2 separate regions of the Homo sapiens genome follow, and region 1 is linked to region 2. Evidence: fine-mapped expression QTL. A gene starts in region 2. The other region holds a variant in brackets. All regions are shown on one strand. Distances are from middle to middle.

Region 1 (4,406 bases), 38 kb after region 2:
GTTTTGCTGTGAGGTCAGAAAAATTGTCCAGTGGAACATTAAAGTCCATTCTGGCCACACATTTAGGCTCCTTTTAATGCCAGGAGTATTTCCGACATTCATCACACATAACAGTGGAATTAGGCACATGGAATGCTACCCTATTTTCTTACAAATGGTACAACTTAAAAGGGGAGTAAGAATTATCAAACGTGTTTTGCATCATAAGGCTCATTTCTTTTTGTTTGTTGCAGCAACATGCATAACTAATTAAATTTGAGAAAATATTTCCCTTTTAATCTGTCCGCATGATCTCACATGATCTCACAAGTTCCCTTCATTTCCCTAAATCTAAATGTAGCTGAATGAATCAAAAGGAAAGAATGTCCAGTTGGCCAGAACTTGCATCACTAATCCATTTTTTTTAAATTCATTCATTGAGTACTTACTAGACACTGCCTAAGCACAAGGACACATAGTTTCTCTCTTAAGAGTTTCTGGGTGTGGAAAATCTCTAACTGCTTTTCCTGTGGTCTCACACCACGCTACAATCAACACAGAAGACTTCTGTGACCAAATGTGGGAGATTTTTTGTCATCAACATGCAAGCAATCAACTCTGCAGCAGGCACCAGCTGAGTGTCCTCCAAATGAATTCTGACACTGTGTACCTGGAGATAGCGTCAGATCCCATAGGTTGAGGGCTCAGTCTCACAAGACATCTTCCCTTTCCCAGATACCAGTCACAAGATCAGGCCTCCAGAACTTCTGGCTGACTGGTTTCAAGTTGGGCTTCCATGACTCCCTCTTGGGGTTCGATTAATTTGCTAGAGTGCATCACAGAACTCAGGGAAACACCTACTTAGATTTACTGGTTTATAATAAAGGATATTACAAAAAGATACAAGTGAAGAGATGCAAAGGGTGAGGTATGGGGGAAGGGGCACAGAGCTGCCAAGCCCTCCCCGGAACACACCCTCTAGGAACCTCCATAGGTTCAGTTATCTTGTAATTTCTTCAAACCTCGTCCCCTTGGGCCTTTTATGGAGACTTCATGAAAGGATAGGCACCATTGACAACCACATAGAAATGTGTTTAGACAAAAAGGGTATGCTTTAGTACTCAAAGGCTGAGTGGGGAAACCCGGTAAGGCCCATCTGTTCAGATTCTTTTTGGCCTCTTTTTTTTTTCCTTTGAGGTGGGTCTCACTCTGACTGTGAGGCTGGAGTGCAGTGGCGTGATTTTGACCTCCTGGGCCCAAGCATGCTCCCACCTCAACCTCCCAAGTAGTTGAGGTTACAGGTGATTGCCACCACACTTGGGTAATTAATTTTTTTTTTTTCTGTAGAGACAGGATCTTCCTATGTTGCCCAGGATGGTCTTGAACTCCTGGGCTCAAACGATTGTCCCATCTTGGCCTCCAAAAGTGCTGAGATTACAGACATGGATCACTGTGCTGGGCCTCTTCTTGGCCTCTCCATGCAACATTCCTTCCTCCAGAATATGGGGCAGAACCCCTTCTGAAATGGGGGTCTTATGACCTACAATCACACAAGGTAGGTAAAGGCAGAGGAAGATTAGAGTCCTGCCTTGGGGAGAAAAAGTAGCAGGTAAAAAAATAGAAGATTAGAGAGAGAGAAATCCTGTTATTCTGAGGTCCGCTTATGAGGCCTAAAATGCACCAACATTATAACATTATAAAAAGGTCTATGGGAATTATGAGACAGGAACCGTGGATGAAACATATGTGTGTGTGTGTGTGTGTGTGTGTGTGTGTGTATAGATACATATATGTATGTAATGTAGATACGTATATAGATAAATATATACATATATAGATACATGTATATAAGTATATATATATATATATAGTATACATATGTGTATATACTATGTATGTGCACCTGGAGATAGTGTCAGATCCCACAGGTTGAGGGCTAAATGTATACTATATGTGTACATATATAATCTATATACTTATATACATGTATCTATATATGTATTATATACACGTATCTATATATGTATATACTAATAATGTATCTATAAATATATAATATATTTATATAAAATCATATAGTGTAATGTGATGATTATGTACATAATGCAATGGAAAGAGAGATAGGAGGCATTTTTAAATTAGGTAGTTGATAATAGCTAACTTTACTACATCCAAAGTACTTAAGTTCTAGGCACTATTCTAAGAG[C/A]TTTGCACACACATATTCTTTAAACCTTCTGAACAGTTCTATCAGGTAAGCACATTATTGTAATCATTTCACTAGTAAGGAAACTCGGGCATAAAGATTAAGTAACTTGTTCAGGGTTACACAGCTAGGAAGTGGCACAGCAGATATTTAACACTTCTGTTTGATATCAGGTCTGTCTGTGTTCTTAACTACAGTGTTCTTAACTACTGTATAGAGATGACCTCCAGAGAAGGTAATTCTTGATCTGAGGTTTGAAAACTAATAAACAGTAGTTAGCTGTATGAAGGATGTTCTCACACAGCTAGATGTACTCTAGAGGGTGGCAGGCAGCAGCATGGGTGAAGTTGCAGAAGCATCGAGTCTCTAGGATGTTAATATTTGGGTCTCTAGGCTGTCAATAGGGGAAGTGGGCTGGGGTAGATAAGGCTCAAAAGTAAGCAGATAGCCATATTGTAAAAGTCATAGTGCATTAAACAAGGAATTAAAAATTCCAGCCATAGAGCTATAGGGACCCAAAGAATTATTGTAAGTGTCTGTGTGTGCACGCATGTGTGTATGTCTGTGTGTGTGCACACATGTGTGGACAGGGGTGATGATATAACCAGATTTGTATGTGTGACAGCTGTGTGGAGGACAGACCAGTAGCATGACCTGTGAGAGACAATTGTAACATCAAGGTGAGGTGGTCAGAGCCTTACATTTGGGCTGTGGTCTTAGGAGTGGAGAAAAGAGGGATAGATCCAACCTGTACTGGTTTGTGAGAGCTGTTTGTTACATTTCAAGACTTTTTTGAGTTGGTTGTTAAAGTCATCAATTAAAAATTAAATTACATACATGTATAATTTAATTATGTTAAAAGCAAAGAAAATAGTAGAAACTCATCACTTCATAATTATTTTACTATTATCTACTCTTTTGAGGTTATTTACATCTATTATATCTGTTGGTGGAAATACTATATAATATGTGTTCCGCATGTCTCTTCCCGATTCTGTTCAGTGGCGTCATGTTGGTAGCTTAAAATTGATAGCAACAGGAGGCAGAGAAACTGTAGGCATACAGGGGCGGGTCGCTGGCAAAATCCCACCTTCAAGCCGAAAAGCCTGAAACCCACAGCCCAAAGTGAGAACTTCCATTCTCTCCCGATTGGTTATTTCTGAATACTGTCTTTTTACCAATTGAATATTGCCTTTTCCAAAACTACCTACGGCCTGCCCCGTCCCCATCCTGTGCCCATAAAGACCCCAGAACTCAGCCAGCAGAGGGAAGAAGCAGCCTGATGTCGAGAAGAAGCGCCTGGACATAGGAGAGAGGTGGCTTGACTTCAGAGGAGAGGGATCTTCCCTTCCCATTCCCTTTCCAGCTCACCTCTCCACTGAGAGCCGCTTTCGTCACTGAAAAAAAAAATTCTCCACATTCGCCATCCTTCAATTCATCTGTGTGACCTCATTCCTCTTGGGCACTGGACAAGAACTCGGACACACTACGTGCAGGTATCCAAAAAGGCGGTCGCACTGGCCCTTTGCCCTTGCTGGCGGAAGGCAGTTGCCCTACGTGATGAGGCAAAGGGCTCACTGAGCTGATAACACACTGCTGTCTGCGGACGGTGGAGCTAAGAGTATGGTTACACGCCCTCTGGGGCTTGGCGTGGCTGGTGCCCACACCTGGACGCTGGTGAGGGGCCCACATGGAGTTTGCTCCTGCTGGTGCCAAAGTGGCCAGTTCCTGCCTTCGCTCGCTCAGGTTCCTGCAGTCATTCGCTTGCGCACTCCCTCCTGCAAGGGATTGAGCAGGGCGGGCTGAGTAAACAAGGCACCCCTGCCGCGAGTTCCGTGAAGGGGTCAAGAAAATATCCTGCATCAAAATCAGTTGTGGTGGGAGGATCAGTCACACCATGAAAACCATCAAGTGTCACCCACCTCTCCCTCTCTCAGAGAATGGGTTGCTCATTTACCAAAACACAACTGGATAGTTCTAAGAAATAATTAAAAAAAGAACAGATAAAACTTAATGACGAATTAGATATTGTAGGAATATGAGAAGGAAAAGTCTTGAGTCACATTTCTCATATGAACAACTTAGTAAATGGTGGTATTAATTACCAAGGTGAAGGATTATAGGAGGAAGGTTTGGTTTTAGAAGACAGACGGTGGATTAGTTTTGGGCTTGTTGAATTTGAGTAGAGATATCTAGTAGATACTTGGGTAGATAGGTCTGGAGG
Region 2 (4,406 bases):
TGGGTTAGTTCAAAGTCACACAGCTAGCACATGGCATATGGAGCTGAGATTTGTACTGGGCAGAGTCTTGGACTGACAAAGAGTGGTGAACTCCTAGTTCTATGACTTTCCTGGGTTCCGCTTTCCTCTTTTGTGAAATGAAAAGATAAGACCTGCTTTCTAGCCGAGAAATGCGATGACTCTAAATCTGAAATTGAGTCAGCAGCTGAGGAGGGTGTACTCACGGGGATGGGCAGAGCAGTGGCAGTGCTCAAAAGGCCAGCCAAGATGAGAAATTTCATTCTAAAGGTCGAGCCTGGAATTGAAGGGGTAGGAGATCATTTCGAGTTTTTTTCTATGTAAGTCCTATTCCTATTTAGAGGTGTTGAAATAGTGGTCAAGATAAATCCTGCCTCCAAACATAGGTTTTGTAAGCCTACAAGAGTGTTTTTAAAAGCTTTGAATTCCTTAGACAAGACATGCACTGTTTAGCTCCCAACATAGCCCATTACTTTCTACTTTCTTATAAAGTTACAGTTCGGCCTATACACTGTACATGTTTGGTCCCTGAAGTTGCGTTTGTGATCTCTACACACAAATCTTTTTTTTTTTTTTTTTTTTTTTTGAGACAGGGTCTTGCTCTGTCACTCAGGCTGGAGTGCAGTGGCACAATCATAGCCTCCTGTACCCTCGAACTGCTGGGCTCAAGTGATCCTTCTGCCTCAGTCTCCCAAGGAGCTAGGACTACAGGTGTGCACCACCACACTTGGCTAATTTTAAAAAAATTTTCTTAGAGATGGGGTCTTGCTATGTTGCCCCCCTGTTGCAAGGATGGTCTTGAACTTCTGGCCTCAATCAACCTTCCCACCACAGCCTTCCAAAGTGCTGGGATTACAGGTGTGAGCCACTGTGCTCAATTCTACTCACAAATCTTTAAACACCAGTGTTACATCATGCTTATTATTAGTAATTGATCACTACTGGCTAAAATGAGAGGAAAGTTTTTATGTAATACACAAATAAATCCACCTGAAGCTTGTACCTCTGTGAGACTTACCAGGCCTTCATATAGTCTGGTTGCTGTTATTGCCAGTTATAGTTCTCGGGAAGGAAATTGTATGGGAAAAATTTTGTAAGATGTAATGGGTTGGTAGAAAATCAGCACAATATGAGTAAATTCAGATTCAATAAAGGAAATCAACTGGCCTTTTATTGGTCCATTGGTTCTGAAAGGAGACATTTTTATGTTTTAAAAATCGCACTTAATTCAAATTAACTTACCTTGTGAGTTTCAAACCAAATCACTGTATTCTGGAATTGGATTTTGAAAGAAAAACAACTTTATCATGTTATTATTAAGACTTATCTCCAGCATTTGAGGCAAGTTATATCTATAAATCACACTTCATCTGTTATATATATCTAAAACCCAACTCTGATTTCAATCTTAGTGCTACTTTGCCTGAATTTAGGCAACTTATTTCCCTTTTCCTTTTTCATGTTTTTTCTTTGTATTTTTCTTCTTTCTGGATTCAAACACTAATTTCTTTCTTCTTATTAGAAGTGGACCTGTTAGAAATCATTAAATTACCCAATACAAGAATATGTTACATTCTTTTATCTAGTGCATTAGAATCAGTCCAAATTATACTATATATCTCTTCAATTACCTTTGCTTCAGTGGCCCTTGGAGCAACAAATTCAAGGAGCAGTGTGATCACCTAGAATCTCTATGCCCATCTAGTATTTAAGCCATGTTACTAATGCCTTTATGGTTATGGGCAATATGAGTCACAAAATTCAAAGCTAAACTGAATAATTGCTTTCACACCAGGAGCTCCAACTTCCAAAATATCTCAATTACACAGAGGTAGACTTACAGACTGATTACTGAGAAAATAACTGAGAAAATAATCTCTTAGGTTGGGATTAGAGTATGTCTTTATCACAAACAACCCACAATTAAAAATTGTGACCACCAAGAATATTAACGTGCCTCTATAATAGATGAGCTAGCTGTACATGTAAGAGCCTTAAATGATACAGAAATTTAAGGTTTGAGATTTTCTCTTATTAAATATTTTTCATTTCAAAATGAATATTATTTTCAAACAAAATTTTTTAGTAGATATTGAGGTGGTTTCCTTACCTTGGTGTTAAAATCACTTTTCACTATTCTAAAATATTTTTGAAAGTTGTCTGAGGGTAAAAGATAATTTAGGCCTAATTAATACCTCTGAATACAACTTCACTGTTCCCAGCAACCTAGTTTGTAATTAGCTAAGACCTTTTCAGCTTCATATAAAAACGTTCTGAAATTTGGAATAGTTCCTAAAATTATTTCTGTAGTTGGAAAAAGTTACAAATAATACTTAATTCGATTTTGATTAATCAAATTGAACTTAATTTTTTAGAAAGGACATAGTATGATATGGTTCTAGTTAAGGTAATTGGCCAGGTGTGGTGGCTCACGCCTGTAATCCCAGCACTTTGGGAGGCCGAGGTGGGCGGATCACGAGGTCAGGAGTTCGAGACCAGCCTGACCAACATGGTGAAACCTCGTCTCTACTAAAAATACAAAAATTAGCTGGGCGTGGTGGCGCACGCCTGTAATCCCAGCTACTGAGGAGGTTGAGGCAGGAGAATCTCTTGAACCCAGGAGGCAGAGGTTGCAGTGAGCTGAGATTGTGCCACTGCACTCCAGCCTGGGTGACAGAGCAAGACTCCATCTCAAAAAAAAAAAAAAAAAGAATAAGTAATTTATTGAGCTATGAAAGAGATAACGAATGAAATTTTGAAATACTCAGAGAAGATTATTCTGATAAAAAAATAAACTATTCTGTAAATATCTTTCAGATAAAATTCCTAGGGGCATGTTCTCTCAGTGACTATCACAGATAAGGTTTGTAACAACAACAACAACAACAACACATTTTTGATTATTTGAAAAAATAGTAAAAGATAATTGTATTGATATCTTTCATTTCAGCTAGAAAAATATGTAAAAAACCATTTTCTTTCAAATAGTCAAATAAAGTGAGTGACATGTCCTTTTATTGCCTTACTTCAGAACTTGGAAAACTATATTATAATGTCATATTTTTGTGATCTAGCTTTTACTGTAATAGTTACCAAAGAAGAGCGCAAATAAAAAGACAAATTTTTGCTTATGACAGGTTTTTCGCTATCAATTTACATTAATAATATTTAATCTCTTTCTACATTGGACATCAAGACGCTTTATGGCCCTCTACCTGTTTTACCATTACATTTTCTTTATTGTGAGGCAATGATTATGTGAAATTTTTGCAGGGCCGCCCTCTTCCCCAGCACACATGCTCAACTGCACAAAAAGTTAGAATTAATTGGATCAAGCAGTGCATAATCTTTCACATTTTATTTTCATTTATTTATTTTTTGAGACAGGGCCTTGCCCTGTCACCCAGGCTGGAGTGCAGTGGCACAATAGCTCACTGCAGCCTCGACCTGCTGGGCTCGAGTAATTCTCCTACCTAAGTCCACCAAGTAGCTGGGATCACAGGTACATGCCACCACCCCTGGCTATTTTTTTAAGTTTTCATAGAGACAGGGTCTCTCCATGTTGCCTAGGCTGGTCTTGAAATCTTGAGCTCAAGGAATCCTCCCGACTTGGCTTCCCAAAGTGTTGAGATTACAGGTGTGAGCCTCTGCACCCAGCTTGTTCTACATTTTATATCAAATTTGGTAAAAAAGCACTTGATATTAGTTTTTTTCTGTTTAAACTTACATAATGATGAAGGACATTAATGAGCACCTCTTATCTTGCCACTGAGTATTTGTTTCCTGTAAGAGATGTCTCACACTTTTTTCTCAACCACACACACACACACACACTTAAGGTAGTAGGGTTTAGGAAGCACAATTATAATTTGACATGAAGTGTGAGTCTTGGGTTGATCTTTTACATTTGATTGTCTAAATAATAACTGGAAATACACTTGCATAAGCATTTGGATTTTTATGGACTCTTTATTAGGGTATTAAGATATTGAAAATAATACACGTAAACCACAAAAGAGTAGCATTCCATTTTCTTGAAGTGCACATGATATTATGAACAATACAAATGCATTATTTTTATCATTAATAGTTTAATCATTAATTATCTCATAAGTCAATGCAGAGAGTGAAATTACTATGAATTAAACTTCTGTTCACAATGTACAGTATTTTGCATATGTTGACTTTACTTAATTGTACATTTTTGTTTCCAAAGTTAATGTTAAATACCTGGTGCATAGGTTGTTGTCAAGCAATTACTCTCATTGTCTTGTCATACATGCTAACATTTTGCTAAATATAAATCTACAAGTATCACAGCTGCATATATTTCTGAAGTGGTTAGAACAGAGGAGGATGCTGGAAAGTTGAGTTCTTTAAAATCTTCG

Alleles and levels. Alleles are on the strand shown, and positions count from the first base shown. SD is a standard deviation of normalised expression in the study named.
In carriers of allele A in region 1, the expression in aorta of the gene that starts at base 1,683 in region 2 tends to be lower than with C alone (small effect, 0.31 SD a copy in GTEx).

What was found. PIP is the estimated chance that this variant, and not a neighbour inherited with it, causes the effect. A credible set is the group of variants that fine-mapping cannot tell apart.
Region 1: its variant is the best candidate, but not a certain one, in a credible set for the expression of SCPPPQ1 in aorta (GTEx, PIP 0.67).

The regions. Positions count from the first base shown.
Region 1 is chr4:87,507,059-87,511,464 of GRCh38, forward strand. All of the region lies in intron 1 of SPARCL1 (SPARC like 1), which reads right to left. Among named protein-coding and RNA genes, the nearest start is that of SPARCL1, 20 kb to the right of the region's middle. RefSeq lists an enhancer at 3,827-4,327. The variant C/A (reference allele first, on the strand shown) is at 2,186.
Region 2 is chr4:87,469,368-87,473,773 of GRCh38, forward strand. SCPPPQ1 (secretory calcium-binding phosphoprotein proline-glutamine rich 1) reads right to left here and starts at 1,683. Exons shown (of 10, transcript NM_001405228.1): 1 at 1,650-1,683; 2 at 1,261-1,290; 3 at 225-295. The coding sequence starts at 281. SPARCL1 (SPARC like 1) reads right to left here. Exons shown (of 11, transcript NM_004684.6): 11 at 3,968-4,406.